Regions from separate parts of the Homo sapiens genome. Here regions 2, 3, 4, 5, 6 and 7 are each linked to region 1. The links come from fine-mapping of genetic effects on gene expression. A gene starts in region 1. Each other region holds a variant in brackets. All regions are shown on one strand. Distances are between the middles of the regions.

Evidence for each region.
Region 2: its variant is fine-mapped to the expression of DRICH1 in cerebellar hemisphere (GTEx, PIP 0.92).
Region 3: its variant is fine-mapped to the expression of DRICH1 in testis (GTEx, PIP above 0.99).
Region 4: its variant is fine-mapped to the expression of DRICH1 in cerebellar hemisphere (GTEx, PIP 0.99).
Region 5: its variant is fine-mapped to the expression of DRICH1 in cerebellum (GTEx, PIP above 0.99).
Region 6: its variant is fine-mapped to the expression of DRICH1 in tibial artery (GTEx, PIP 0.98).
Region 7: its variant is fine-mapped to the expression of DRICH1 in uterus (GTEx, PIP above 0.99).

What each region holds. Positions count from the first base shown.
Region 1 is chr22:23,630,164-23,634,589 of GRCh38, reverse strand. It overlaps DRICH1 (aspartate rich 1), which reads left to right and starts at 2,269. Exons shown (of 12, transcript NM_016449.4): 1 at 2,269-2,774. The coding sequence starts at 2,567. It overlaps LOC124905089 (a long non-coding RNA gene), which reads left to right. Exons shown (of 3, transcript XR_007068021.1): 3 at 1,680-1,714. RefSeq lists a silencer at 1,093-1,230.
Region 2 is chr22:24,233,309-24,237,675 of GRCh38, reverse strand. It overlaps GGT5 (gamma-glutamyltransferase 5), which reads left to right. Exons shown (of 12, transcript NM_004121.5): 2 at 3,672-3,802; 3 at 4,083-4,178. Among named protein-coding and RNA genes, the nearest start is that of GGT5, 9.6 kb to the left of the region's middle. The variant G/A (reference allele first, on the strand shown) is at 2,323.
Region 3 is chr22:23,605,850-23,610,275 of GRCh38, reverse strand. DRICH1 (aspartate rich 1) reads left to right here. Exons shown (of 12, transcript NM_016449.4): 12 at 1,508-1,824. The coding sequence ends at 1,512. Among named protein-coding and RNA genes, the nearest start is that of DRICH1, 24 kb to the left of the region's middle. The variant T/C (reference allele first, on the strand shown) is at 1,817.
Region 4 is chr22:23,718,914-23,723,339 of GRCh38, reverse strand. No RefSeq gene overlaps it. Among named protein-coding and RNA genes, the nearest start is that of ZNF70, 30 kb to the left of the region's middle. The variant C/T (reference allele first, on the strand shown) is at 2,041.
Region 5 is chr22:23,733,560-23,737,985 of GRCh38, reverse strand. It overlaps LOC124905088 (a long non-coding RNA gene), which reads left to right and starts at 4,384. Exons shown (of 2, transcript XR_007068020.1): 1 at 4,384-4,426. The variant C/T (reference allele first, on the strand shown) is at 2,589.
Region 6 is chr22:23,655,092-23,659,343 of GRCh38, reverse strand. It overlaps the pseudogene GUSBP11. Among named protein-coding and RNA genes, the nearest start is that of DRICH1, 25 kb to the right of the region's middle. The variant C/A (reference allele first, on the strand shown) is at 2,093.
Region 7 is chr22:23,029,241-23,033,666 of GRCh38, reverse strand. No RefSeq gene overlaps it. Among named protein-coding and RNA genes, the nearest start is that of GNAZ, 39 kb to the left of the region's middle. RefSeq lists enhancers at 2,126-2,901, 3,424-4,321. The variant C/A (reference allele first, on the strand shown) is at 2,393.

The DNA of each region.
Region 1 (4,426 bases):
ATTTACCCAGTCCTTCAAACTAGAGCCTTAGCAGCCTGTTTTTCCTTTTCCTTCCCCTGTTCTTCCACATCTAATCCTCTAGCACTTTCTGTTCTCTCTGCCAAATGATCACAGAACTTCTCTGTCCACTTCAGTCATTTCTACTTCCTTTGGCCTTATCTGTTCTTCCAGATGAACATAATGTCTCTCTCTCTTTTTTTTTGAGACAGAATCTCTCCCTGTTGCCCAGGCTGGAGTTCAGTGGTGTGATCTTGGCTCACTGCAACCTCCACCTCCTGGGTTCAAGCGATTCTCCTGCCTCAGCCCCTTGGGTAGATGGGACTACAGGTACCCGCCATCATGCCAGGCTAATTTTTGTATTTTTAGTAGACATGGGGTTTCACCATGTTGGCCAGGCTGGTCTCGAACTCCTGACCTCAAATGATCCACTCACCTTGGCCTCCCAACATCATGTCTCTTAATTGGTCCCACTGGTTCCATGAGTCCTTCTCTATTGTGCAGAGAGACCTCACTGCAAACACATCTGATAGAGACTCCTCACCTCTGTGTGGTTCCGTGACTCTCATGTTTCCAGAATAAAACTTAAACTCTACTTCAACTCTACTGCTGGACAGTGAATGAGCCTTTGTATTCCAGGTTCATCCACTGTTTTGCAGTGTAGCCTCAGACAACTGAACTCTAAGCCTTTGTTTGCTCATCTGCCTGAACTCACTGAGCAGTTGTGGGACCTTGGGGAAGTTACTTGACTTTTCCCTCTAGATTTACGCTGTAAGATGTGTAAAATGGGACTATTTCTGAGGGTTAAATTAGTATGCCACAGTTGGAACACTGTCAGGCACATAATGCTTGCCAGATATTGACTATTTGTCTTTGTCCTATGAGGACAATGGTACCCCACTGTGGGGTTCTCAATTTTGTATAAGAAAATAATGTTTTATGATTTGTTAGTAAAAGAAATACCTGAGGCTGGGCATGGTGGTTCATGCCTGTAATCCCAGCACTTTGGGAGGACGAGGCGGGTGGATCACCTGAGATGAGTTCAAGACCAGCCTGACCAACATGGTGAAACCCTCGTCTCTACTAGAAATACAAAAATTAGCCAGATGCGGTGGCGTGTGCCTGTAGTCCAGGCTACTCAGGAGGCTGAGGCTGGAGAATCGCTTGAACCTGGGAGGTGGAGGTTACAGTGAGCCGAGATCGTGCCACTGCACTCCAGCCTGGTCGACAGAGCAATAGTCCATCTCAAAAAATAAATAAATAAGTAAATAAAAGAAATATCTGAATACCCCTGCCATGGAAAGAAGAAACAGAGCGAGAAAAGGGAGTTGGTAGGTCGTAGCATTACAGAACTGGGAAGGATGTGTTCAGTCCCTATTTTATAGACGAGGAGGGAAGTGTGATGTGTCCCAGGGTTTCACTGAGGATACACAGCCATAACTCTCTATTGAGAGTGGGACCAGGGCCCTGGGGGTAGCTATGGTCAAGTTGCAGACAAGAACTAACACTTGTAAGACAGGAGAGAAGCATTTAATTAGAAAAGCAGTAAAAAATTTGTGTATAACTACATTTGGTGAGCAAATGAAAGCTGTCAGACTCAGAAAAACAGAACTGCTGGTGGAACTGACTTTAGTAACTGGGGTTTTCTTTCTTTTGTTTCTTTTTTTTTTTTTTTTTTAAAGACAGTTGCACCTTTGTCACCCAGGCTGGAGTGCAATGGTGTGATCTTGGCTCACTGTGCAACCTCCGCCTCCTGGATTCAAGCGATTCTCCTGCCTCAGCCTCCTGAGTAGCTAGGATTGCAGGTGCCCGCCACCAGGCCGAGCTAATATTTTGTATTTTTAGTAGAGACAAGTTTTCACCATGTTGGCCAGGCTGGTCTTGAACTCCTGACCTCAAGTGATCCACCCCCCCCGCTCAGCCTCCCAAAGTGCTAGGATTACAGGCGTGAGCCACCACTCCCGGCCATACCAGGGTTTTCTATTGAGTTTCTTGCCAAGGGTGACTCGCAATAACAACTCCCCCTGCACTTAGCTCAGGACTGGAAAGCTCAGGCAGCATAGGGTGAATAAAAGCCTGAGTAGTGCAGTCCCCACAGAGGGGCAGGGGGGCCACAAGGTGGGCAGCAGCAGGGACAGGCATTATGAGGCATTGGGGGGGGCTGTGGGGCTGGACATTGTGAGTCACTAGCCTGACCTGGCTGTTTCCTGGTAACCAGGTGACATAGGAAGCTTTGTGGGTTATAAGCATCAGCCAGGGCCAGCAGCCCTCAGTCAGTAGCTCGCAGTGGAGGGAGGAGGAGCTCCAACTGTGCTCTTTGATGGCAGTTTTTGCACCTTTGGGTGCTTGTCATGTTCGTTTATTTTTCAAAGAAGACAGCAGGTCCCTGACCTCATAGACCAGCTAGTTTGGGAGGTGGCGGCAGAATAAGGGCTGAGGACCCAGATCTGCCTGGGGTCAGGCTGCTTCTAAAAGTGCAGGGCCACCCTCAGTAGTGTGGCTGCTAGGGCAGCACAGTTACAATTTCGCTGAAGGCTGAGGCAGGAGTGGAGAGGCATGGAGAGGCCCCATGGGGAATATACTGACCTGTTGTATCAACTCCCACTGTGGCTGGCCCAGGGGGAAGGACGCACCCTGTTATGAATCTGATACTGATATTTATGAGACTGTGGCTGCTGCAACATCAGAATCCACTACTGTAGAGCCTGGCAAGCTGGATGTGGGAGCCACGGAGGGCCAAGACCTGCAGCACATCAGCAACCAAAAGATGCCCACAGGTAAAAAAGCCACGGGTGCCGTTTACCCTCTGGCACACCTCTGGCCACCCCCACCCCCTTCCCTTACCCTCATCCCCAGAGACATCCTCAGCTTCCAGCTCCCTCCTGTCCATAGCCAGCTTTCCCAGGTCTGGGCATGGGGGACAAAGGCTGACTCTGCCTCCTGTCTTTGTCGTTGAGACTTTTTGATCTAGAAAAGGGAGAGCCCTTTTCTCAATGAAAATTCAAATACCCCAATTTTGGAGTCCCCATCCCATTCTCTAGCCTCACCTATCTGGCCGGTTTGGTACCTAAATGAAGGAACCAGCTAAGGGTCAGATTGTTTTTCTTCCATCTCTTAAGGTAGCTTATTTTTTGTAAATTTTATTTATTATTTATTTATTTATTTATTTATTTATTTTAGATGGAGTCTTGCTCTGTTGCCCAGGCTGGAGTGCAGTGGCGGGATCTCAGCTCACTGCAACCTCTGCCTCCTGGGTTCAAGCGATTCTCTAGCATCAGCCTCCTGAGTAGGGACTACAGGTGCCCACTACCACGCCCGGCTAATTTTTTGTATTTTTAGTAGAGACGGGATTTCACTGTGTTAGCCAGAATGGTCTCGATCTCCTGACCTGGTGATCTGCCCGCCTCGGCCTCCCAAAGTGCTGTGATTACAGGCATGAGGCATCGCGCCCGGCTCCTAATTTAATTTTTTTTAAGTTCCGAGGTACATGTGCAGGATGTACAGGTTTGTTACGTAGGTAAAAGTGTGCCATGGTGGTTTGCTGCACCTGTCAACCCATCACCTAGGTATGAAGCCCTGCATGCATTAACTGTTTATCCATATTCTCTCCCTTCCCCTGCCCCCTGACAGGCCCCAGTGTGTATCATTCCCTGTCTAACACCGTACGTATTCTAAGACCACTCCTTTGCTGATGACAAATCTAAGTGATGGTTCGCAGGGGACTCTCTTCCCTGCTTCTGTCTGGAGAGCCTGCCTGGCTTCAGGTTCCTGATAGGAGTGAGGACCTGGAGTGCAGTGTGAGAAACAGATGGCTCAGTGAAGAACTGTCATCATCCACTAGAGTCCCTGGAAACAGCCGTGTCATTTAGATGATGTGGGTTTGTGTGCATGAGGGTTGGGAGATAGCCAGGGGTGAATTAATGTGTAGTGTTTGTAAATGTGTGTTTTCCCCCAAAAATGTGGACCCGCATGCCCAGCACAAGTGCAAGTGTCAGTTTTCTTGAATTCCTGGCCTATGGTGGTCCTCTCACCTCAGCCTCCCAAGTCATGTCATTCTTCTAATAAAAAGGAAGAAAAACTTCAGCACCACCATACACTTTACATAAATGACCTCTTTTTCACTCAACACAGTGTACCTGAAGGTCAGTTTAATATCCCTACTTCTTAGAGAGAGAGAGAGTGTGGAAAGGAATGAACCCAGATTTTGACCTCCTGAATGGAAGAGGCAAAAGTGAACCCAGAAATGGGTCCCGATGTTGATGGTCTGCATTACTCAACCGTGTCATCACTCCACCGTGATATATGACCCCACACCAGGGAGTTCCAGCACCTATGCGTGCCCCTGGTAGTGGTAGTGGATGGCCTATAAGTGTGCCAAACATTGCCCACCATCAGATGGGGCCCCAGTGGTCACATAACTCTGGGTAGC
Region 2 (4,367 bases), 600 kb before region 1:
CAGCACTTTGGGAGGCCAAGGCAGGCAGATCACGAGGTCAGGAGTACAAGACCAGCCTGGCCAACACAGTGAAACCCTGTCTCTACTGAAAATACAAAAATTAGCTCTGCGTGATGGCTGGTGGCTGTAATCCCAGCTACTTGGGAGGCTGAGACAGGAGAATTGCTTGAACCCAGGAGGTGAAGGTTGCAGTGAGCCGAGATCGAGGCACTGCACTCCAGCCTGGACAACAGAGTGAGATGCTGTCTCAAATAAATAAATAAATAAATATAAAATAATTTGAGGCCTAGGGATCTGAAATTCTGGGATCTCCTTTATGCATTTGAGTGACTGAGATGATTTGAAGCTGGATCCAGTGCTCCTGAGGGCTGCTCTATTTCTAGTTGACTCCTAGAGTAAGAAACCTGCACCCCACGTGTGGGGCATTATGGCATCCCCTCCCTCAGCACATGAGTAGGTCAACAGCACTGCTCTAGACCAGGTGTGGTGGCTCACGCCTATAGTCCCAGCTACTCAGGAGACTGAGGCAGGAGGATTGCTTCAGGCCAAGAATTTGAGACCAGCCAGAGCAATATATTAGGTTGGTACAAAAGTAATTGCGGTTTTTGCCATTAAAAGTAATGGTGACCCTGTCTCAGAAAAATAAAAAGCAAAAAAAAAAAAAAAAAGAGAGAAAAGAAAAAAAGAATCCCTGATCTATTTCTCAGCCTCCTCTTCAGGATTGGCCGTCACCTTGAGGGGAATGCTGGCCTTGCCTGTCTCCAGCCCTGTACTTCTCTGCCTCCTATGCCTTTAAGCACATGTTTTCTATTTGCTGGGCTTTTCTAGTTCTCTGAGGGAAGTGTGGTCTGAATTACAGTCTCCCATTACCAGGAAGTCTGATTTACGTTTAACAGATTTTTTTTTTTTTTTTGAGATGGAGTCTCTCTCCGTTGCCCAGGCTGGAGTGCAGTGGTACAACCTTGGCTCACTGCAAGCTCCGACTTCCAGGTTCACACCATTCTCCTGCCTCAGCCTCCTGAGTAGCTGGGACTACAGGCACCCGCCACCATGCCCAGCTAATTTTTTGTATTTTTAATAGAGATGGGGTTTCACCGTGTTAGCCAGGATGGTCTCAATCTCCTGACCTCATGATCTGCCTGCCTGGGCCTCCCAAAGTGCTGGGATTACAGGCATGAGCCACCGCGCCCGGCCTTAACAGATTATTTTTTTAAAATGTAAGGGAGCAAGGCCAACGCTGGGGCCTGGGTAGGAGGCCATTGCAATAACCCAGCTGAGAGAGGTTGGTGGCTTGGACCAGTGTGGTGGAGATGGAGGTAGAACCTGCATCCAGAGTCACTGGTGGGTTGGATGTGGGGAAGGAAGAAAGTGACCAATCCAGGATGGCTCCAGGGTGTAGGCGCTGAGCAAAAGGGGGAGTGGTTGTGTCAATTTCTAAGACAACGAGGACTAGGAGAGGAGCCATTTCGCAGGGACGGTTGGAAGGAAAATCAAAAGTACAGTTTAGGTCATGGTATGTTTGAAATGTTTCTTAGACACCCAGAGTGGGTACCTTGTGCATAGCTGGGTATAAGTGTCTCGAGTGTAGGGAGAGGACTGGCGGAGTTAAAGTCGGGGAGTTACCATCACACAGGTTGCATCTCATGCCATGAGCCTGGATGGACTCACCCAGGGAGAAGATATAGATGCACAAGGACCATGGACCAAGCCTGGGGCCCCCAACATCAGGAGACCAGGGAGGTGGGACGAAAACCAAAGCCTGGCAGGGTGGGCGAGGTGGGTGCAGGGACCTGGCCCATTCCCTCTTGGGGCTTTGGTTTCCCCATCTGTAACCATTTACCCCATTTTGCCCTGGAAGCCAAGACAACTGACTAGGCTGGAAGCAGACAGGTTGGGGAAGCAAGGGTGCACTCCATTTAGTTAGGAAGTGAGGCCTTTGTCTGGGATGGGAGTTTAAAGTGTTTTTTCCCCCAGTTTGTCATTTGGCTTTGTTTATGGTGTTTTATTCTTATAAAAATTAGTGTTTATGCCTGACTTGTTTATTTCATTTTCTGGCTTTGTGCTCTCTTTCCTGTTCCAAGATTACATGTGTCCCTGTGGTGCCCATGTGTGCCACGTGTGGGCCCAGAGAGGGACATGTGGCTCAGGAGCTGGGGTGGGTTTGTGTCCAGATGGACATGCTAGGTCAGGACAGACACCTGAGCCAAAGGAGGGTGCTAGGGCCAGAGGTCCCACGGGGTGGGTGCAGGGACCCAGGTCCATTCCCTCTTTGGGCCTTGGTTTCCCCATCTGCAACTGGGGCTTAAATGCTGGCTTCTGGCC[G/A]GGCACAGTGGCTCACGCCTGTAATCCCAGCACTTTGGGAGGCCGAGGTGAGCAGATCATCTGATGTCGGGAGTTTGAGACCAGCCTGACCAACATGGAGAAACCTCGTCTCTACTAAAAATACAAAATTAGTCAGGCGTGGTGGTGCATGCCTGTAATCCCAGCTACTCGGCAGGCTGAAGCAGGAGAATCGCTTGAATCCGGGAGGCGAGGTTGCAATGAGCCAAGATAGTGTCATTGCACTCCAGCCTGGGCAAGAAGATTGAAACTCTGTCTCAAAAAAAAAAAAAAAAAAAAAAAAAAGCTGGCTTCTTGAGGTGCTGGGGAGGAAGGATTCCTGGGTGTTAGGGAAGAGGTTGACCTCAGTGAGCTGTGCAGGCCTGTGCCCCAGGGACAGGGATCATCATAATGTAGGCCAGGCTGACCAGCCCTCAGTGCTAAAGGGCCCACCTCTTGCTGCCCATGGACAGATGGGGAGGGGTAGGCCAGAGCATTTATTTTCTTTCTTTCTTTTCTTTTCTTTTTTTTTCTTTTTTGAGGCAGTCTTGCTTTGTTGCCCAGGCTGGAGTGCAGTGGCATGATTTCAGCTCACTGCAACCTCTGCCTGCTGGGTTCAAGCAATTCTCCTGCCTCAGCCTCCTGCGTAGCTGGGATTACAGGTGCCCGCCATCACATTCAGCTAATTTTTGTATTTTTAGTAGAGACGGGGTTTCACCATGTTGGCCAAGCTGGTCTTGAACTCCTGACCTCAAGTGATCTATCCGCCTCGGCCTCCCAAAGTGCAGGGATTATAGGCATGAGCCACCACACCCAGCCTAGGCCAGAGAATTTCCATAGGCTCAGAGTCCCAAGAGAAGTTTTGGGGTCCATCAGCTCAAGCCCTATGCCCTGCTGGCAGGGAAGGATCCTGGGATCACCTGCCAAAGGCCAGCCTTGAAGTAGTTGTGGCCAGAGTGTCCCCAGTGAGATGGGGAGTGGAGTCCCAGGGTGGGCTCCTGAGGCCACTGTGAGGGACTGAGAGGTGGCCGAGGCCTCGTTCTGCCTGTAGCATATGAGCTGGTGCTGCTGGGAACAATGGCAACAGAAGTACTTTGCAAACTGAGAAGCACCTTGTATATGGCAAAGGTCAGTGTAAATGGCATCACACTTTGCAACCGTAGTGTGTTGTGGACCTGTGAGCAGCTGGATTTGATGGGGAAGCCTGGTTGTGTTCTGCAACCTAATCTGCGGTTTGGTGGCAGCCGACGTGCCGCCTCCGTCACCATTCTCCAATGAGTGCCAGCTGAGCAAGCCTGGTGGGGAGGCAGGGGGAGGGGAGCCCCACAGCGACTCTGTGCCATGTCCCCTAGAGCCATCCTCCAGCAGCAGGGCTCACCCGTGGATGCCACCATCGCGGCTCTGGTCTGCACCAGCGTCGTCAACCCTCAGAGCATGGGCCTGGGCGGAGGGGTCATCTTCACCATCTACAATGTGACAACAGGTGGGCCCACATGTGAACTGCCATGGGGAAGATGGGCTTGTCCACACCACTGCGTAACCCCTTCTCCAGCCAGTCCCATCAACTCAAGCCCGTTTCTGGGTGTTCTTGGGCCCCCTGCCCTGCCCCATTTGCCTCAGCTGTGCAAAGCCCTTGTGTCAACTCCTGTCCCTGTGTTAGCCCAGAGTCCATCTCATAATGCAGAGATGGAAACTGAGGCCTAGAGCAGGCCAGGGGCTGTCTGCAGGGTCCATGACCACTCACCTGCCCTGCCCTACTCCAGGGAAGGTGGAGGTCATCAATGCCCGGGAGACGGTGCCGGCCAGCCACGCCCCGAGCCTGCTGGACCAGTGTGCACAGGCTCTGCCACTGGGCACAGGTGACGCCCCATGGAGGTCCCCCACTCCCACCCCCCAGGCCACTAGGACTAATCAGAACACCCCCGCAAAGGAGCAGCGCCTCACGGACAGGCTGTGACTCCCTGGCACGGGGGGACACGGAGCCTGTGGGGAACCCCCAGCCCCAACCTGCAGGGATTGAGAAGGTCCCCCTTGGGAACGGGCTCTCT
Region 3 (4,426 bases), 24 kb after region 1:
TGAACAACCAAAATTGCAGAGAAGTGGCCTCATTTCCTGGAAGTGTTTCAGGGACGGGGAGGTGGTGAGGTGAGGAAATCCTCATGACCAAAGAAACATGAGGCCTGAGGACTGGCGGTTGGGCTCAGCCACATGGAGACCACGTCGTGCCCTACAAGAGCAATCTGGTGGTGTGGTGCTGGGGAGGAGAGACGGCCAGGGCAACAGAGCTTGTGCAGGGATTCAGAACCAGAGGGCTCCTCAGAACGGGCATAGGAGATGGTTCGTAAGGACCTGTCCCACTCCAGTGAAGGCATGAGGGGCAGGGAGGGAGGAAAGCAGCCCCACATAGGAGGATGCCCAGGGAGGGGAAGCAGGTCTTGGGAGAGCTAGGTTTCAGTCCAAGCAAGAAAGGAAAGAATGTTCCAGGGAGGGCCTCCAGAGGGCTTGGAGAAAAGGTTGCAGCAGATGGGGTCAGAAAAGGAGTATTCATGGCCTTGAGGGAGAGGTGAGCTGAGCTTCTTGCAGCCCCTGATGCAAACAGGGATGAAGGACATAGTGAGATTAGTCCTGAATCTGAGGCAGAGAGCGGTGAGGAGGCCGTGAGTTTGGGGAAGGGAGGGAAGGGCCTGGCTGGGAGAAGGCAGGGTTCTGGGCCCTCTACAGTCCTGCCAGGGAAAGTCAGAGCCCAGAGAGGCCCAGGGCTCCCTGCTGACACCTGCACAAACAGGTGTACCCCTGGTCAGGGGGTGCTCTGTAGACTGCTGTGGAGTGAGGGAGCAGCTTCTCCTGGGCACAAGACCCCAGGCACCTGCAGGATGCAGGGCTCCAGGCTCCCTCAGATGCCTGCTGATGGGTCTCCTCTGAGGGGCTGTAAACTGGCTTCCTGGGTACCCACAATGTACAAGGCACTTATTTTCAGTATGATGCCCCCGGCACTGCCAAAATCATACCCATTTATGATAGGCACAATTACTCGCCCCACTTTAGAGCTAGTGAAACTGAGGCACTGAGCAGTTAATCAACTTGCCCCAGACTCCACAGATAAACAGTCAGTGTAGAGCTGGGGGTCTCAACACAGCAGCCTCCCTCCATAGTGTGGGCTTATAGCCACTGGCTGTCCCTCTGCCCTTGTCCAAACTCAGCTGTCTGGGGTGTCAGTTTGTGCCTCTGGGCTACAGTTGAATGACCAGTTGCCTCTTCCAGGCTGGCTCCCATACCTCTCCCGACAGCAGTTTCTTAAATCCCAGAAGCTGATAACGGTAAATGGGCCTTGGAGAATGGAGGCAAGGGTGTGGGGCTCAGGACTTCTAGGTCCCAACATAGGCTGTGTTCCTGGCCCTCCCCTTGTAACAGAGGCACCTCTGTCCCTGGCTGATGAGTTTCCGCATCTGTAATTTCTCCTCAGCCTGGACTGCAGAGGCGGGAGCCCAGGGATGCTGGCGTGGAGGCTGCTTAGTGGGATGATGTCATAGTGCACAAAGCTGGGAGCCTGCTCTCACTAAAAAGGGATTATCTCTTCATCCAGGGTGAAGCCCTTCTGTGGAGCTGACCAGGGTGCTGACCCAAAGGGCAGGCCAGCGCGTGCTGCAGGGTCCCCAGCTTTGCCCCTGGAGGTCTCAATCCTCTCTACATTCTGAGGAAAACTCTTGGTCCCAGCAGAGAGAAAAAGTCCAAGGCTGCTTCCCACCCACCGCCAGCACTAGGTTTGGCCTGTACCATCCAGGACCCAGTGCTTCTGGGCCTGGCATTTCTCCTTTGGCAAGAGAGTGAGAAGAGACGTGACTGTGCTCCACGAGCAGAAAGTGCCATTCCCACTTGAAATAAAGAGACTGAG[T/C]GCATTTATTCAGGTGCAGAGGTGGCTGATCAGGTCTGACCCAATGAGGGGCTCAGGGTTTCCACTCAATGACATCGATGGCGATCTGGGTCACCTTCTATAAGGCCTCGCCCTCATAAGCCTTGCTGTCAGAGTCCTCCTCCAGGACACGGAAGGTGTGCATATGGGCCTGCAGGACCTTGCAGCCCTCAGGGGCCTCTGGCAGCATGGTGAGGGCCTTGGTGGCCTTCAGGCACACCCTGCCCATGCATGAGTGTAGCAGCTTCAGGAGCAGGCTGATGGCTTGTGCGTCCAGGGCCACCTACTTCTCGGCAGGCCACCAACACGGAATTTCTAACAGCCTGGGGGGGCCTCTTCTCACCCCCTCTCACCCTAGCCCTCTTTTGACCCTGGTGCCTGCAGAGTCTCAAAGGGAGGTGCCACCCTGTCCCACTGCTGCAGGGATTCCCTGATTCATTCATGCAGCGAGATGCTGAGGCAAGAGCTGGGTTTCCCCACCTCAGCAGTCTTTTGGGCCAGGTAATTCTCAACTTGGGGCCAAAGCTCCCCTGCTGTGACCTTTGGGTCTGGAGCAGCAAACAGAGCAAAGCCTTGTCCTCAGGAGCTCCCCTTGGGGATGACACAGAAAGTGATGGCAAGGATGGTGGTCACAGTGGACATAGGAGGATGCAGGGAGGCTGGGGAGGCTGCATTTTCAGAGAGAAAGTTCTCTCCTGGAAAGCCACTCTCCTGATCCCATGGAAAGGGACCTCTGTGCAAACCTAAGAATGATGGGGCGGGGATGGGGCCTGGGAACATGCATTTCCACAGACCACCCAGGGTCTGGTTCAGGGGCCACACTTGGAGAAATACCCGGGCCTCTAATGAGACTCTCAGAAGAAAGAGAAACCTGGACTTAGGGAAGGCAAGAGGCCCCCCCCCGCCCCCGCCAGCAAGAGGACATGGCCACGGCCAAGGCAGGGACTCTGGGGGTCGGTGACTGGCCCATCCTCACAATGAGGGTCCCAGTGTGGGAACACTCCCCAACCACTGCAAGCTCTGAGTCTTTGTGCTCCCCCAGTTTTGAGGCCAGGATGTAGACTGTGATCCTATGTGACCTGGACTGAGACACAAGACACTGTGCCTCCGTTTCCTCACCTGTGAAGGCAGACATCGCCTCCCTGGAGGGTTGTCTAAATGTGAGGTTTGGAGACAATGCCTGGCACACAGGACACACTCAGTGACCACTGGGTGTCAGGATCGTCACCAGTGCTTCTCCTGTTCTCGCCTTCCTCATGGGGTGGAGGTGCCAGACCCTCTCCTGCATCCTCCTGCAGGCAGGAGACAGCGGGTCCAGGACGAGCTCCCGGAACGCTCCTCCCTCTACAGCTTCCACATCAGTGAGCGGATCAGACCCTTGCTGATGACATCGTGGGCCCCTGCACAACAGGAAAGGGCACTGAGGGTGGACCGGCCACACCCCCTCCCATGCTGGTTGGCCTGCAGGGTGCAGGAAGGATTTTGCAGAGCAACTTGGTGGGTTTGACAGGAGAACTTGTAAGTTCCCCATCACCCCACGAAGCTGCCTGGCCAGGGGCCTGAGAAGCCAGCAGGAGGCTGTGGGTGGGTGACAGCCATGTCAGCAGTTGAATGAGAGGGCAGGCGCAGAGGACCCAGGGAGGGCCAGCCTTTGGTCGCTGGCATCTCAGGGGGCATCTGCCGTAGCAGGGCACAGTGGCCTGAGAGGCAGCAGCCAGCCCTGGGAGATCCCGCACCTCACTGCTGTGGGGCCCAGGCACACCAGGAGACCCTCCGCTCTTCCCTACCACTGCCCCAGAGTAGGGGAGCCAAGAAAGCCCCCGCTTCCCACCCCAAATATTTCAAAGGAGTTGGAGACTCACGCCTGGTCAGACCAGCCTTTGAGAAGAGCTTGGGTTCGACTCCGAGATGGAAGACCTAGAGTGGAGGCCAGTGTCTCACACACCAAAAAGAGCTGCGCCCCAACCGACGCCAATGGGAAGCCATAGGCTCTGGCCAAGGGGTCTTGAAGGGACCTGGGGCTCTATGGGAAGGGGGGCATCACATGGCACAGCTCGGGTACAGGTACTGGGAGAAGTACAATGAGGCAAGGCTCCCCCATAAACAGGCCCCACCTGGCTCCTCCCAGCTGGAGCTGGAAGCCTGGGAGGGAAGTGGTCAGTCCAGCCCCAAAAGCCTGTGGGGCAGGTAAGGGGTGAGAGATTTTATGGAATGTGGAGGCCTGTGGAGGAGACAAGCCAGAGGGTTGAGGAGGAACATCAACCCCTAGAGGGGCCTGGGCAGACACTAGCTTTCACTAAAGGGTTACTATTTTGTCCATCATGAACTTGTTTGAATTAATTTTTTTTTTTTGAGGTGGGGTCTCACTCAAAAAAAAAAATTTTTTTTTTTTGAGGCGGGAGTGCAGTGGCGTGAACTCAGCTCACTGTAACCTTCGCCTCCCAGGTTCAAGCGATTCTCCTACCTCAGCCTCCCAAGTAGCTGGGCTCACAGGTGCACACAATGGCTGGCTAATTTTTTTATTGTAAAGATGGCATTTCGCCATGTTGGCCAGGCTGATCTCGAACTCCTGACCTCAAGTTATCCACCCAC
Region 4 (4,426 bases), 89 kb before region 1:
GCTCAGCCCTGGAGTGGAAGTTTATTTAAAAGGCTTTAGAATAGGAAAGAAAGGAAAGAAAAGTACGCTTGGAAGAGACCCAAGAGGGCACCAAGGTCAAGTGCGGTGTTTAACCTTGACCCTAGGACTTTATAGGCTGGCCTCTTTCCCATGTTCCTTCCTTTAGGGTGGGCTGCCACAGGGGGCAGGTGAGCACCCGCTATGTGTTTAGAAACTTCTGTGCACACCCATCTAAGGCTTTCTTCCCTTTTCTGGTGGAGTGCCCCCGAAAGGTCATACTCCCCCATTTTGTCTCTTACTGCACATGCCTGGACTCACTCATCCAATACCTGACATTTTATCAGAAGCCCCCTTGTGCCTCTCCCTTGTGCCTGCATTCAATTCATACTTTAATGCAACAGGTGTGGACCAGCAGGCAATGGCCTTTTCCTGGTGCCAGCTGCCAATTTGTCACTTTTTTTTTTTTTTTGAGACAGAATCTGGCTCTGTCACCCAGGCTTGAGTGCAGTGGTGCGATATCACTGTAACCTTCACCTACTGGGTTCAAGCAATTCTCCTGCCTCAGCCTCCTGAGCAACTAGGACTACAGGCACACACCACCATGCCCAGCTAATATTTTTGTATTTTTAGTGGAGACGGGGTTTCATCATGTTGGCCAGGCTGGTCTCGATCTCCTAACATCAAGTGATCCGCCCGCCTCGGCCTCACAAGGTGCTGTGCCCGGCCAATTTATCCCTTTTAGAGAGGCAATGGGATGATCGCCAAACCATCTGCTGACATTTCTAGTGGGCGAGGGGAGAGCCCTCTCTGCCCCCATCATGCCTATCCTACCTTTTCCTGATGCAGCTCTCAGCTTGACTTTTCCCTTTGGCTTAGTGACTTGTCAGGGTAGGAGGGGTCCCAAGATTTATTTTCTTTTCACAAAGGCAAAAGGGGATACGGCATGTCACATGGTGAAAGAGGGAGTGAGAGAGAGAACAGGGAGGCGCTGCACTCTTATAAACAGCCAGATCTCATGGGAACTACCTGAGTGGGAGCTCACTCATCACCAAGGGGATGATCCCATCATTGCCACCAGGCCTCACTTCCAATTCCGAGAATGACATCTCTTTTTTTTTTTGAGACAGAGTCTTGCTCTCTCACCTAGGCTGCAGTGCAGTGGTGTGATCTCATCTCACTGCAGCCTCTGCCTCCCAGGTTCAAGCAATTTTCCTGCCTCAGCCTCCCGAGTAGCTGGGACTACAGATGCACACCACCACGCCCGGCTAATTTTTTTTTTTTTTTTTTGAGACAGAGTCTTGCTCTGTCACCCAGGCTGGAGTGCAGTGGCACTATCTCGGCTCACTGCAAGCTCCACCTCCCGGGTTCACGCCATTCTCATGCGTCAGCCTCCCAAGTAGCTGGGACTGCAGGCGCCCGCCACCACGCCTGGCTAATTTTTCGTATTTTTAGTAGAGACAGAGTTTCACCGTGTTAGCCAGGATGGTCTCGATCTCCTGACCTTGTGATCCACCCGCCTTGGCCTCCCAAAGTGCTGGGATTACAGGCATGAGCCACCGCACCCGGCCTGTATTTTTTTTTTTTTTAGTAGAATTAAGGTTTTACCATACTGGCCAGGCTAGTCTTGAACTCCTGACCTCAAGTGATCTGCCCACCTCAGCCTCCCAAAGTGCTGAGATTACAGGTGTGAGCCACTGCGCCTGGCTGGAAATCACATCTCAACATGAGATTTGGAGGGCACATACCCAAACCACATTACCCTTCGAGGGAAATTCCGGGCACCTAGCTATCTTGAGAAGTAAATTAGCAACTTGATGAGAAGAAGGTAATAATTGGCTGGGTTCAGTGCCTCACACCTGTAATCCCAGCACTTTGGGAGGTCGAGACAGATAGATCAACTGAGGTCAGGAGTTCGAGATCAGCCTGGCTAATGTGATGAAACCCCATCTCTACTAAAAATACAAAAATTAGCTGGGTGTGGTGACGGATGCCTGTAATCCCAGCTACGCGGGAGGCTGAGGCAGGAGGATTGCTTGAACC[C/T]GGGAGGCGGAGGGTGCAGTGGGCTTAGATTGGGCCATTGCTCTCCAGTCTGGGCAACAGAGCAAGACTCCGTCTCAAAAAAAAAAACAAAAAACAAAAAACAAGAAAAAGTAATAATAGCTCAGAACAACAGCCACCCAAGTCGGTTAGAGCCACAAGATATTTGATCCCCTATAGAAAGTAAAGATAACATCTTGACAAATGTCCCTAAGTTGTTTTTCAGAAGCGCAGACCTCAACCAGATGAAAAATGGCGACAGCTTTCACGTTGACCTCAGATAAGGGTGAACCAAGGGCTGAACTCTGATTGGAGTTCTTTGTTCTAAATTTCTTCCTGAGGGGCTTGGAGGGAATCAGACTCACAGGTGAAAACTTAACATCCCTTCTGCTGACCCCAAGGTTTTAGATAAAGCTTTGCTTTCTTAACCAACTGTAAACGTAAAAAATATTTGAATTCACCAGGCGCGATGGCTCATGCCTGTAATCACAGCACTTTGGGAGGCCGAGGCGGGCGGATCACCTGAAGTCAGGAGTTCAAGGCCAGTGTGGTTAACATGGTGAAACCCTGTCTTTACTAAAAATACAAAAATTAGCCGGGCGTGGTGGTGGGCGCCTGTAATCCCAGCTACTCAGGAGGCTGATGCAGGAGAATTGCTTGAACCAGGTGGCACACGCCTATAGTCCAGCTACATGAGAGGCTGAGGCAGGAGGATTGATGAAGCTCGGGAAGCAGAGGTTGCAGTGAGCCGAGACCAGGCCATTGCACTCCAGCCTAGACGACAGAGCGCGACTCTCAAAAAAAAAAAAAAAAAGAAAAAAAGAAAGAAGGAAAAGGAAAAAAGGAAGGCATCTTCTCTGGCACCCTTTAGTCTTTTTTTTTTTTTTTTTTTTTTGAGATGGGGTCTCGCTCTGTCACCTGGGCTGGAGTGCAGTGGCACAATCTCGGCTCACTGCAACCTCTGCTTCCCGGGCTTTATCAATCCTCCTGCCTCAGCCTCTCATGTAGATGGGACTATAGGCGTGCACCACTCCACATAGCTAATTTTTTAATTTTTTTATTTTTTGTAGAGACAGCGGTCTCGTTATGTTGCCCAGGCTGGTTGCAAACTCCTGGGCTCCAGTCATCCTCCTGCCTCCACCTCTCAAAGTGCTGGGATTACAGGTGTGAGCCACTAAGCCCGTCCTGAATTACTGATTTTTACATACTGTATAAACTTTGGCATCCTACTTTTTCTTACTTTTGTTAAATTTGGCCTAAAGCTGCCTCATCAACAGTGAACTATATCCTAATTTAAGCATGTAAGCATTTTACTAAAGGAATATACAAGTAAAATTTTAAAGAAAGAAAATAGGCTGGGCATGGTGGCTCACTTCTGTGATCCCAGCACTTTGGGAGGCAGAGGCGGGTGGATCACGAGGTCAGGAGATCGAGACCATCCTGGCTAACAGTGAAACCCCGTCTCTACTAAAAATACAAAAAATTAGCCTGGCATGGTGGCGGGCACCTGTAGTCCCAGCTACTCGGGAGGCTGAGGCAGGAGAATGGCCTGAATCCGGGAGGCGGAGCTTTCAGTGAGCCGAGATTGTGCCACTGCACTCCAGCCTGGGCGACAGAGCGAGACTCTGTCTCAAAAAAAAAAAAAAAAAAACTAAATAACTAAATAAGAAAACAAGCATAAACATTTGGGAAAAAGCCTTTAGGCCTTGTCAGTTCCTAGAATGTATTTATTTTCACTATACTGGGGTATCCTTCCAGTATTAAGGTCCATTCTCAGAAGGTGGATTTGGCGAGCATGAAAAAATGGGGTGGGGGAGTAATCGTACAAACAACTGTGTCCAGTCCAGGTTCCTAGGACCAAAGGGACCCCTCTGTATGGCAGAGGCACCCAACAGCCATAACTGATGTGTACCCTTAGAATGACTTTATGGTCGGCCGGGCGCGGTGGCTCACGCCTGTAATCCCAGCACTTTGGGAGGCCGAGGCGGGCGGATCACGAGCTCAGGAGATCGATACCATCTTGGCTAACACGGTGAAACCCCGTCTCTACTAAAAATACAAAAAATTAGCCGGGCGCGGTGGCGGGCGCCTGTAATCCCAGCTACTCAGGAGGCTGAGGCAGGAGAATGGCGTGAACCCGGGAGGCGGAGCTTGCAGTGAGCCGAGATAGTGCCACTGCAGTGCCGCCTGGGCGAAAGAGCAAGACTCCTTCTCAAAAAAATAAAATTAAAAAAAAAAAAGAAGAATGACTTTATGGTCTAAGAAGAATGTGTGTTCGGAGCCCCAAGCTAAGGAATCAGGAATGGCAAGATCCTGGAACGATGCCAACCTATGAAACCCTGAGTCAAGAGGTCAAGCTGGGCACTTGGTTTCTCAGGTCGACTGCTTG
Region 5 (4,426 bases), 100 kb before region 1:
CCATATGTGGAGTGTCATTTCTGGATAGACTAGAGGTCTGCCATTGGGCCCACCTGTCTCTCTTCTTGTCACATTTGGGTTCAGTGCCAAGATCTGCCCTGAGCCCATTCCTCAAGTTACAGCCTCTGACTTCAGGGTCCTAAGCTATAACATGGGGGAATGATGACACTCACAGCCTTGGGGGCCTCAGTGGTATAAGGAATGCAAACATGCTTAGCAAACTATCAGGTGCAGTTGATTATTACACTATTAGTGTTTTGAAGTATTTCTTTCTTTCTTTTTTTTTTTTTTTGAGATGAAGTCTTGCTCTGTAGCCCAGGCTGGAGTGCAGTGGTGCGATCTCGGCTCACTGCAACCAGGATCAAGCGATTCTCCTGCCTCAGCCTCCAAAGTAGCTGAGATTACAGGCACGCGCCATTGCACCTGGCTAATTTTTTTTTTTTTTTTTTGGGGGACGGAGTCTCACTCTGTTGCCAGGCTAGAGTGCAGTGGCGTGATCTCAGCTCACTGCAACCTCCACCTCCCAGGTTCAAGCGATTCTCTTGCCTCGGCCTCCCAAGTAGCTGGGATAACAGCTGGGATAACAGGCATGCGCCACCATGCCCTGCTAATTTTGTATTTTTAGTAGAGGCATGGTTTCCCCATGTTCGCCAGGCCGGTCTCTATCTCCTGACCTCAGGTGATCCACCAGCCTCAGCCTCCCAAAGTGCTGGGATTACAGACATGAGCCACTGCGCCTGGGCCTCCTATGAGTCTTTAATGCCAAGGATGCTTCCTCAGGATAAAGGCTTATGTCCATTTCAGTGTCGACTGTCAGGGACTCAGCTGCAGACTCTTTTGACTCATCTGCTTTTTATTTGTTTTTAATTTTTTTGCAAGCCTTTATGCTGCTTTCCTGTCTTTCTCCTCTTCCTGAGTTCTCTTCCCCATACCTACAGCGTGGCCTCCGCACATACCAAGCTTGCAAGCTTGCTGTTTGCTGCAAAGAAACCTGGACTGACAATCTCTCTTCTGTCATCTGGGCAGCCAGACTGAGTGTCCCCTTCTACCTGGGTGCCTGTGTGCATGTCCTCTAACCCCTAACCCTTTGCAGCTTCTGTTTTTTTTTTTTTTCTTTTTTTCTTTTGTTTTTTTGGAGACAGAGTTTTGCTCTTGTTGCCCAGGCTGGAGTACAATGGCAAGATCTCGGCTCACCACAACCTCTGCCTCCCGGGTTCAAGCGATTCTCTTGCCTCAGCCTCCCAAGTAGCTGGGGTTATAGGCATGCGCCACCATGCCCAGCTTATTTTGTATTTTTATTAGAGACGGGGTTTCTCCGTGTTGGTCAGGCTGGTCTCAAACTCCCTACCTCAGGTGATCCACCCGCCTCGGCCTCCCAAAGTGCTGGGATTACAGGCGTGAGCCACCATGCCCGGCCAGCTTCTGTTTCTTTATGTATAAACAGTACTGTCATGAAGATGCAATGAGATGAATTTTAGCTCAGAGCCTGCCACCTGGTGACTTACCCATGTTAGGTATTGTGGTTACAGCCCTGCTGTCAAACCACTTCTCCAACTCTCTTTCTAGCCTCAATTCATCTGTCAAAGCATTTGGCCCCAGGATTTTGCTGCGTATTCAGAAGTACGACCTCACATCTGCAGAATGCCACTGGCTTTCACACGAGGCCTCCCAGAAAGGGATGCCAGGCCTCAGACACTAGCTGGTGGCTCTCAGGACTTGCCACTCCATTTTCGCATTTTTCAGGACCACATGGCATACAGTTGGTCTCACAGTCTTTCCTGTCTTCCCAGTGGTCAGCTGCAGCCCAGTTCTAGGGCTTCTGTGGGGGAAGACAGGAGAGGGCTTGGAGTCAGGACACTAAAATGTGTCAGACGAAGCTTTGCTTGCAAGGAGCTTACCACTTGGGTGGTGGAGAAGGCCCAGAAGGCACTACTACAGTGCTCCCAAATCAGGAAAAGATCGCTAAATGCCCGTACTACTCAGGATCACATGGGAGCCCAGAGTTGGACACCTGGATCAACTGGGAGCCTACCTGACATTGATGATGTTTGGCTAGAATACTGATGAATGAATGGGAGGTAGCAAGACCGACACTGAGGGAAGGGCATCCCAGGCACAGGGAAGAGCATTTAGGAAGGCTTGAAACAGTTGGATCCATTCTGGGAACTCCAAGTAATTCCATTCTTAAGTTGAGCCAGGGCTAGAAATCGTCAAACCACAACACATTCCAGCCATTGGTCTCTTTTTCTCCCTCTGTTCCATCCCATATAGCTCAATACTATAGCTAGATTTATCTTCCTTCCTTCCTTTCTTTCTTTTTTAAGATGGGGTTTTGGCCGGGAGCAGTGGCTCACACCTGTAATCCCAGCACTTTAGGAGGCCGAGGGGGGTGGATCACCTGAGGTCAGGAGTTTGAGACCAGCCTGACCAACATTGAGAAACCCCATCTTTACTAAAAATACAAAATTAGCTGGGCGTGGTGGCGCATGCCTGTAATCCCAGCTACTTGGGAGACTGAGGCAGGAGAATCGCTTGAACCTGGGAGGCAGAGGTTGCAGTGAGCCCGGACCATGCCATTGCACTCCAGC[C/T]TGGGCAACAAGAGCGAAACTCCGTCTAAAAATAAATAAATAAATAAAAATAAAATAAAATAAATTTGGCTCTTCTGATTTTAAAATTGACTGGGGCTCCCTATGACCTAAAGGACCAAGATCAAACTCCCTCTCTTGACATTCAAAGCTCTTCACAGCCTTCCCCCAAACTCTTTCCACGTCTCCTCCCTACCTTTTGTTATAGTTATAGCCACTTGGATGACTTCCTGTTCTTCAAGCAGGCCAGTCACCCTTTTTGTCCAGACTTCTCCCTCTGCCTGCAATGTTCTTTTCCCCTTCTTCCTTGGGCAAATTCCCCCTATCTTCCAAGACCCAATGCAGAGGACAGGTTTACTAGAAGCCCCTTCAGGGTACTCCCAGTGCCTAGAATCCAGCCTGTCATTTTGGTTGAATAATTAATCAGATCAAGAACATCTTCCCTGAGTTCCCAACAGAGACGCCCCCCCACACGCCCTCGTGCTCCCTGCACTCCTCCTCCATGCTATGTTGGAACTTCTTGAAGTCAGGCTTCATTTCTTTTCTGTTTCCTTCCTTGCTTCCTTCCTTTCTTTCTTTTTTTTTTTTTTTTGAGACAGAGTCTCACTCTGTCGCCCAGGCTGGAGTGCAGTGGCACGATCTCGGCTCACTGCAACCTCCGCCTCCCAGGTTCAAGCGATTCTCCTGCCTCAGCCTCCTGTGTAGCTACGACTACAGGCGCCCACCACCACACCCAGCAGTGGGAGGCTGCAGTGAGCTGTGATGGCACCACTGCACTCCAGCCTGGGTAACAGAGCAAGACCCTGTCCCTAAAAGAAAAAAGAAATGTTTGAAACTTACATTTTATTAACAGCAAAGATAAAGAAGCTCAACTCAAGGAAGAATGAATAACCCCTACCAAGTGATTTGGGAGCAATGACAGATTTTGTTAACTAAAGCAAACTCCAGCAGTAAGGACATGACACACCAAATCCCCAAAAGGGTCAAAGCTCTGGGTCACAGATAAAATCTTCCAGAGCAGTCGTTCTCAGACTGTCATTCTTGGCCATCATAATTATTGCCCAGGAACTTGCTAGAAATGCAAACTTTCGGCTGGTCGTGGTGGCTGACACCTGTAATCCTAGCACTTTGCGACGCCGAGGCAGGCGGATCACCTGAGGTCGGGAGTTCGAGACCAGCCTGACCAACATGGAGAAACCCCATCTCTAATAAAAATACAAAAAAATTAGCTGGGCGTGGTGGCACACACCTGTAGTCCCAGCTACTCAGGAGGCTGAGGCAGAAGAATTGCTTGAACCCGGGAGACGGAGGTTGCAGTGAGCCGAGATCGCACCACTGCACTCCAGCCTAGTGACAATGAGACTTCATATCCAAAAAAAAAAAAAAAAAAAAAGCAAACTTTCAGGACCCACCGGCTTACCAAATAAGCTACTGAGCAGGGCCCAGCCTAGTGCCATTACTTTTAATGACAAAACCCACAATTACTTTTGCACTGATACAATAGTAACATCAAGGATCACCGGTCATAGATCAGCATGACAAATATTATTACAGTAATAATAGGCTGAGCACGCTGACTCATGCCTGTAATCCCAGCACTTTGGGAGGCCAAGGTGGGTGGATCACCTGAGGTCAGGAGTTTGAGACCAGCCTGACCAACGTTGTGAGACCCCGTCTCTACTAAAAATACAAAAAAATTAGCCAAGTGTGGTGGCGGGCCTCTGTAATACCAGCTACTTGGGAGGCTGAGGCAAGGGAATCACTTGAACCCGGGATGTGGAGGTTGCAGTGAGCCAAGGTTGCACCATTGCACTCCAGCCTGGGCAACAAGAGCAAAACTA
Region 6 (4,252 bases), 25 kb before region 1:
AGGCCAGGAGTTCGAGACCAGTCTGCTAAGCATAGCAAGACCCCTTCTCTACAAAAAGTAAGCAAATTAGCTAGGTGTGGTGGTGTGTTCCTGTAGTTCCAGCTGCTTGGGTGGCTGAGGCAGGCAGATCGCCTGAGCACAGGAGTTGGGGGCTGCAGTGAGCTATGATTACACCACTGCACTTGAGCCAGGGTGACAGAGTGAGACCTGTCTTAAAAAAAAAAAAAAGGGGGTCTTCAAAGACAAGAACATCTGTGCTGTCACGTTGGGTGGATGAGGGGCTGCCAGGTTTGCAATGAATGTTTCCCATTTCTTCTTAGTTTATGGACTTACCATAAACTCAGGATGGCAGTTTGGTGGGTTGGAGAAGGATATGGTGATTGCGGGAGTTACAAGACATTACTTATAGGGGAAAACAGGGTTTTGAAAGGTTAACGCTTAAAAGTGAGAATGGAAAAGGGATGAATGAATGAACAAGATGAGGTGAGATGGAAGAGGTAAAGGGAAAAGGAGAACAAGCAGCTCTTCTCTGCGTGGCGCCTGGGATGAATGGTTTCTGGGGACATCCCTGATGGCAGTTTTGTGGAGAGGCGCAAAACTTTATGTGGTAAGAAATGAGCTGTAGGCCCAGCGCAGTGACCCACGCCTGTAATCCCAGAACTTTGGGAGGCCGAGGAGGGCGGATCACTTGAGGTCAGGAGTTCAAGACCAGCCTGGCCAACATGGAGAAACCTTGTCTCTACTAAAAGTACAAAAATTAGGCAGGCGTGGTGGCAAGTGCCTGTAATCCCAGTTACTCGGAAGGCTAAGGCATGAGAATCGCTTGAACCCGGGAGGTGGAGGTTGCGGTGAGGGAAGATCGCACCTTTGCACTCCAGCCTGGGCAACAAGAGCAAAACTCTGTTTTAAGAAAAAAAAAAAGAAAACAAAAGAAACGGGCCAGGCGGGCTGGGCGCAGTGGGTCAGGCCTGTTATCCCAGCACTTTGGGAAGCCGAGGTGGGCGGATCACGAGGTCAGGAGTTGGAGACCAGCCTGGCCAACATGGTGAAATCCCGTCTCTACTAAAAATACAAAAATTATCTGGGCATGGTGGCTGCTGCCTGTAATTCCAGATACTTGTTAGGCTGAGGCAGAATTGCTTGAATCCAGGCAAGTGAAGGTTGCAGTGAGGCCACTGCACTCCAGTCTGGGCAACAGAGTGAGACTCCATATCTAAAAATAAAATAAAATGGAGGAGGAGGAAGAGGAAGAGGAGAAAAAAGAAGAAGAAACAGCTAGGTGCAGTGGCTCATGCCTGTAATCTCAGCAATTTGGGAGGTGGAGGAGGAGCAGGAGGAGGAAAAGGAAACAACCAGGCCAGTCATGGTGTCTCGTGCCTACGAGGAGGAGGAGGAAGCGGAGGAGGGGAAAAAAAAGGAGGAGGAAAAAGAAACGGAGCAGAAGGAGTTGGAGGAGGAGGAGGTGGAGGAGGAGGAGGGAAAAGAAATGGAGCAGGAGGAGGAGGGAAAAGAAATGGAAGAGGAGGAGCAGGAGGAAAATGAAATGGAGGAGGAGGAGGAGGAAAAAGAAATGGAGGAGGAAAAAGAAACAGGAGGAGGAAAAAGAAACGGAGGAGGAAGAGGAGGAGGAGGACAAAGAAACAGCCAGGCCGGACGTGGTGGCTCACCCCTGTAGTCCCAGCTGCTCGGGAGGCTGAGGCAGAAGAATCGCTTCAACCCGGGAGGCAGAGTTTGCGTGAGCCGAGATCGTGCCACTGCATTCCAGCCTGGAGACAGAGTGAGACTCCATCTCATCTCAAAAAAAACAAAAGAAAACAAAACAAAAACAAAAAAACAGCCAGGAGCCGTGGCTCACGCCTGTAATCCTAGCAATTTGGGAGGCGATAAGAATTATTGAAATGCAATAAGAATTACCGAAATGTTGAACAAAGACACCAAGTGAGCACGTGCTGTTGGAAAAATAGCACCAATACTACACTAGCTCAACACAAGGTTGCCACAATCCTGTAATATATTAAAAATTGGGCCAGGCAAGGGGCCGGGAGGGGTGGCTCACACCTGTAATCTCAGCACTTTGGGAGGCCAAGGCAGG[C/A]GGATCACCTGAGGTCAGGAGCTCCAGACCAGCCTGGCCAACATGGTAAAACCCCATCTCTACTAAAAATACAAAAATTGGCTGGGGGTGGTGGTGGGTGCCTGTAATCCTAGCTACTATGTAGGCTGAGGCAGGAGAACCACTTGAACCCGGGAGGTGGAGGTTACAGTGAGCCAAGATCATGCCATGGCACTCCAGCCTGGGTGACAAGAGCAAAACTTCATCTCAAAAAAAAAGAAAAGAAAAGAAAAACAAAATGGGCCAGGCGGGCTGGGTGCAGTGGCTCATGCCTGTAATTCCGGCACCTTTGGGAGGCTGAGATGGGTGGATCACGAGGTCAGAAGTTTGAGACCAGCCTGGCCAACATGGTGAAACCACATCTCTACTAAAAATAGAAAAATTATCCTGGCGTGGTGGCAAGCGCTTGTAATCCCAGCTACTCGGGAGGTTGAGGCAGGAGAATTGCTTGAACCTGGGAGGTGGAGGTTGTAGTGAGTGAAGATCTTGCCACTGCACTCCAGCCTGGGCAACAGCCAGACTCTGTCTCAAAACAAACCAACACAAACAAACAAAAACAAACCCCAAAACCAAAATTGATATTTCCCGTGTACATTCGACCTTGACTGTTGCTCATTCAACCCAGCCCAACTCAGTGCCCCATCCCCTGGCCCTGAAGAGACCATTCTGGCCCAGAAGTGTCCTGGCTCGGAGCAGCACCTTCTGCTACCACACTGGGCCTCCCTTCTCCTCAGTGCCCAAGGGGAGGCACCTCACTCTGATCTCCCAGTGGCATCCTATTATGCCTGCCAGTAAGGATAGGCGCTTGGTCCTAGAGCAGAGTGGTCTGCCGTTGGACCAGCCCAGCACTCCAGGTGACCTCAGCCTGCCCCAGGCCTTCCTGTAGGTTGGCACTAATTGGTTTGGCTGCAGCCTTGCATATTTAGCAGTTTTTATTACTAATAATACAGGCAGGGTGGCCCAGGACCCCGCTGGGGGAGGTACTGCCAGGCTCCCAGCTGAGGGGCAGGCTGGCTCCAATTCTGACTGGCTGGCCCCAGTGATCAGAAAGATCCAGGCCCCACCTAGTGCTTTGCTGGAGATCTAGGCTTGGTGGGGCAGCTTGTGGGGTAAGGGGCAGGACCAGCTCAAAAGACGGGGTGGGGGCGGAGGCTCCCTCTGCAGGGCAGAGTCCTTTGGCAGCTGGGGCTGTTGGGCATGGAGGGGTCAGTTCACAGCTCAGGGCCAGAGCACGGTAGAGGTCTCTGGGTGCACACAAGAACCAGGAGTGGAGCTGAAACATGTCCTGTCCCCTGCCTGCCCTCCCTTAGTAACTGCTGGCATTTCCCAATTCCTTCCTGAGCACCAGGCACCATGTTATGCATGCAATTTGCAAATGTTACCTGATTGAATGCTCAAAACAAGGCTATCACATAGGTACTGTATTATTTTTCAGAAGATGTCTTGCTCTGTCACCCAGGCTGGAGTGCAATGGTGCCATCTCTGTTCACTGCAACCTCCACCTCCAGGGTTCAGGTGAATCTCCTGCTTCAGACTTTCAAGTAGCTGGGACTATAGCTGCCCGCCACTGCGCCTGGCTAATTTTTGTATTTTCAGTAAAGACAGGGTTTCCCCATGTTGGCCGGGCTGGTCTCAAACTCCTGACCTCAAGGGATCCACCCATCTGGGCCTCCCAACCCTGAGTTTTTATAATAGGCCCCAGGCCAGGTGGTTAACAGAGGTCTGGGGCATTGCAGGGGGACAGAGGAGGACATATGTCCCTATTGGCCATTGTAGAGTCCCTTCCACAAAAAGGATGTCAGTCAAGTGACGTGCCCACCTCCACCCCACCCTCCCCCCCAGTCCTGGGCACTAGGACTACTTCCCAGGTGCCCTGTACCCTTCCCCGATCTGTCCCATGCCCTGGCCTCTGCCCGCTTTCAAAACATAGATGTGGCCAGCGCCTTGGCTTATGCCTATAATCCCAGCACTTTCGGAAGCAGAAGGATTGCTTGAGCCCAGGAGTTCAAGACCAGCCTGGGCAACATAGATCCTGTCTCAACATATTTTCTGCAAAATTTTTGTTTTTCCTAGACAGAGTCTCCTTCTGTCACCCAGGCTGGAGTGCAGTGGCACGATCTTGGCTCACTGCAACCTCTGCCT
Region 7 (4,426 bases), 600 kb after region 1:
GAGTTCTCTAATCCAGGAAAGTATGTGCAATGTGCCCGCAACTTCAGACCATGGGTAGCAGGAGAGCCACTGACTGGATCCTCCAGTTTTCTGTGGTGATAGGTTCCAATACCCTGAGGCTGGCATCCCAGGTGGGAGGCAGAGTCCCATTACTGCCTGCCCTCTTGCTCATGCCCTTCCCAGGGAGAGCAAAGAGAGGCAGCTCTGGCATCCCTGAAGCCTAGTGCTCTCCTTCCACATGCATGGTGCTAAGCTGAGTCCTGTTAAGTTGGGTGGTGCAGGGAGCACTGGCAGGTTGGTTTAGAGGACTGAACTCAAGGGAGGAAGCGCTGGCCAGGTGGAGGAGTAAAAAAATATTTCTGGCAAAGAAAACAGTCTCTGCCAATGAAGAAAGGCCAGAGAAGGTACACGACAATTCAGTAATCAGCACTGTGAGCGTTTGGAGTGGCTGGGACCTAGGGCTGTGCATGCAGAGAGTGAGGCCAGAGAGGCAGGCAGGACCAGATCACAGAGCCTCCGGTGCTGTGCTTTTGCGATGCCCAGCTATGCAGTGCTGTTAGGGGAAACAAGATTTAATACAAGACTCAAAAATAAAAAGAAAGAAAATATCTGACAAGCTACACTTTCAGTCTTATTGATAAAATATCGAGCCATTAGTTGGGATCTTTGGTGTTAAGTGTGGCTGAAAGAGATGGTCAAATAATTACCTCCTCATTGCAGGGAAGGTGGAAGGAGCCCACTGCTATGCATCCCCTGTGGGCATGAAATCTCTAAGCATGACGCGTCCGTGTACAGAGGCCACAGAATAATATTTTCCTACAGCCAAATTGTGTGAGAGAGAACCATTTACAATTTTGCATAATCTATGGCATGGCTAAAAGCAGATTACACTACAAAGGGAGGAAAACAAATAAGAGCTCTCTGCCTCCATGAGCAAGAAGGAGCTTGGATCAACCCTGGCCTGGAGACAATCATGTCTCAGAAAGCAAATGATGCCAGGGTGTAAACCCATGAGGTGAAATAGAACCTTCTAGGGCAACACTTGCAAAGACAACTACAATGTGAAGGCAACCCATCACCCTGGTCCATGCGGTGGCCATGCCAACACCCACCTGCTCAATGACTCTCTTGCAAAACATGGTGTTGATGAAAAGGGTCAAACTCTGCAAAATATTTGAAAAGATTTATTCTGAACCAAATATGCGTGACCAATGGCTCATGACACAGCCCCAGGAGATCCTGAGAACATGTGCCCAAGGTGGTGGGGCTACAGCTTGGTCTTATATATTTTAGGGGGACATAAGATATCAATCCATATATGTAAGATGTACATTGGTTCAGTTCAAAAAGGCGGGACAACTCAAAGCAGGGAAGGTGGAGGGGCTCCAGGTCATAGGTGGATTTAAAGATTTCCTGATTGGCAATTGGTTAAAGAGTTATTACCTAAAGACCTAGAATCAATAGAAAGGAATGTCTGGGTTAAAATAAGGTATTGTGGTGACCAAGGTTTTGTCATGTAGATGAAGACTTCAGAGCTCTTATCAGACCTAAAAGGTGCCAGACTCTTAGTTAATTCTCTTGGGTCACAGAAAAGACCTGGCAAGGGAAGGGGACTTTCTACAGAATGTAGATTTCCTTCAGAAGAGACAGCTTTGCAGGGCCATTTCAAAATATGTCAAAGAAGCATGTTTGGGGCTAAAATACTTTATTTCAGGGCCTGCCATCTGTCATGTGATGCTATACTAGAGTCAGCCAGGAATTTGATGTCTTATTGCTACAAGAAGTCTGTATTGTCAGTCTTAAGATCTCTGTTTTAATGTTAATGCTGGTTAGTTATGCTCGAATTCCAAAAAGAGGAGGGAATAATGAAGCATGTCTGACCTCTACTTCCCACCATGGCCTCAACTAGCTTTTCAGGTTTACTTTGGAATGCCCTTGGTAAAGAGGGGTGTCCATCAGTAAGTTGTAGGGCTTAGAATTTTATTTTTGGTTTACATTCTCCTCCTTCTGGCCAAGATTTCCCAGAGAAAACAGCAAGCCACCAAACTTTTATTTCGTCCCACAGCATTGCTGGGGTGGTGTGGCTGCCTGCCATGGGTCCCTTCTGTCTCTAAGTGGGACTCCTACAGCCAAGAGACTTAGAGCTAAAAGACATAATTTAAATGTTCTGAGCCAGACAGGAATAAAGGTGGACAGGCATTCATCAACCCTTAACGTTCTTTTTCTTTTTCTTTTTCTTTTTTTGTTTTTTTGAGACAGAGTCTTGCTGTGTCGCGCAGGCTGGAGTGCAGTGGCACAATCTCGGCTCACTGCAAGCTCCGCCTCCCGGGTTCATGCCATTCTCCTGCCTCAGCCTCCTGAGTAGCTGGGACTACAGGCGCCCGCCACCACG[C/A]CCGGCTAATTTTTTGTATTTTTAGTAGAGGCGGGGTTTCACCGTGCTAGCCAGGATGATCTCGATCTCCTGACCTCGTGATCTGCCCACCTCGGCCTCCCAAAGTGGTGGGATTACAGGCATGAGCCACCGTGCCCGGCATAGGCTGTTGATCTATTTTAAATGACTTTTTGTGCATAGTGTGAAGTAGGGTTTCAGAGTCTTTCTTTTGCATGTGGAAATCGGTGCACCATTCTCCTGCCTCAGCTTCCCAAGTACCTGGGACTACAGGCACCCACCACCACGCCCTGCTAATTTTTTTTGTATTTTTAGTAGAGACAGGGTTTCACGGTGTTAGCCAGGCTGGTCTTGATCTCCTGACCTTGTGATCCGCCTGCCTCGGCCTCCCAAAGTGCTGGGATTACAGGCGTGAGCCACCGTGCCCAGCCAGGTGCTTGTATAGTTTTAGCAGCAGGGCATTGGCAGTGAAAAACACATCGGGCCCAGCAGGATCTCAAATGAGGGAGATTCACGGGCTTTGTCAAATTGTCTCTAGCCTTCAGAATACCATAATTCTGGTTTCCTCAGAAGAAGTAAAGCTATGTGACCTAAATAACAATAATTTGACCATCAAAAAAGAATTTGTGTGTCAGAACAGAAAAATAACCCTCTTCCATTAGAATGCCAACTAAAAACATAAAGAAAATCATAACCTTGTTTGTCTTTAGAGGACTGTTATAGCCAAGAAATAATTCATGATTTAATCTGTGCTCAGAAACAAAGGTCAGGGCTGCAATCTAGTAACAGGTGTGTGAATAGTTTTCCTTTTGAAACATAATTTTTCTCTCTCTAGCCCTGTTTTTCCACTAAAGAGAAATCATGGTAAGGCCAATTTGTGTGTAAGTTAAGTTTTAGGCTTATACTTGGCCTAATTATGTGCATAAAGTTCAACAAGAATTGATTGGCCACATAGGCTCTTTTCAAGTTGGCTTTGCTGGGACTCCTAAAAATATATTATTTAGTCAAAGCCTTGGTAAAATAACCAGTGTCTCCAATTATGTCCTCTTAACCGAACTTATGCAAACAAGTATATTGCCATAAAATAAGGATACTCATGAATAGTTACCGAATTTAGGGGAACTCAGGTAGCAAGAAAGGTAAATTCTGTTCATAAAAGTATACTTCACAATCAGAGTAGCAGCCTTCCAAATAGGATGTCAGTTGTTCACCTAGGAACGGCCATCCGCAAACTAAGCAGCTCTTTGTCAGTCAGGGAAGAGCTATTTATCAAGCACTGTAGAATCTAGCAGCTCCTCATGCAGTGTTAATCCTAAGGGGGAAAAGAAGCTCCCTGCTTGCAAGTATCTTCTCCTTGCATTTTCCAGGAAGCAAGATCTTACATAAACCATTTGTTTTCTCATGGAACTCTTTTGGGCATCATTATTTCCATTACTGCAGGGATAGCTTCAGGTCCCTTATATTTTTACGTTCTTGTTCTAGGAACATTTCTTCTCTATCCCAGACCGTTTTATCTTCCCTGGTGAGAGTGAATCTGGGTTTCCAGCAGGGGGGCTGGGTGAAGGGCCTCAGGCCCTTTTGTCAATCATTATCGTAATTTGCCTCAACATTGCCCCAGGCAATGTCAGCTCTCTCATTTTAACTCCGTGTCTTTTGATTTTTCTTAAATTTCTCCAATCTGGAGCAAATGCAGAAAGCAGAAAACTAAAAACTGGTGTCGGGCTTTATAATGTTGGGGACCAGCAGGGGCTCCCTTTAGCCAATAATTTGACAATCAGAAGAGAACTTGTGTGTCAGAACAGAAAAAGAAACCTATTCCATTAGGGCATCAACTAAAAACATCAGGAAGGGAATTGTAACCTGGTTTGTCTTTAGAGGACTATTATAGCCAAGCTATATATAATAGCCACTATCAAAGCTATTATAACCTTTGATAGTGTTGTAAAGACCTTTGTTTTAACCCCATCAATTTTCATTTTATTTCATTTCTTAATAACCACTCATCTTAGAAGAGTCTTTTGACTCCCATTTGCCTTT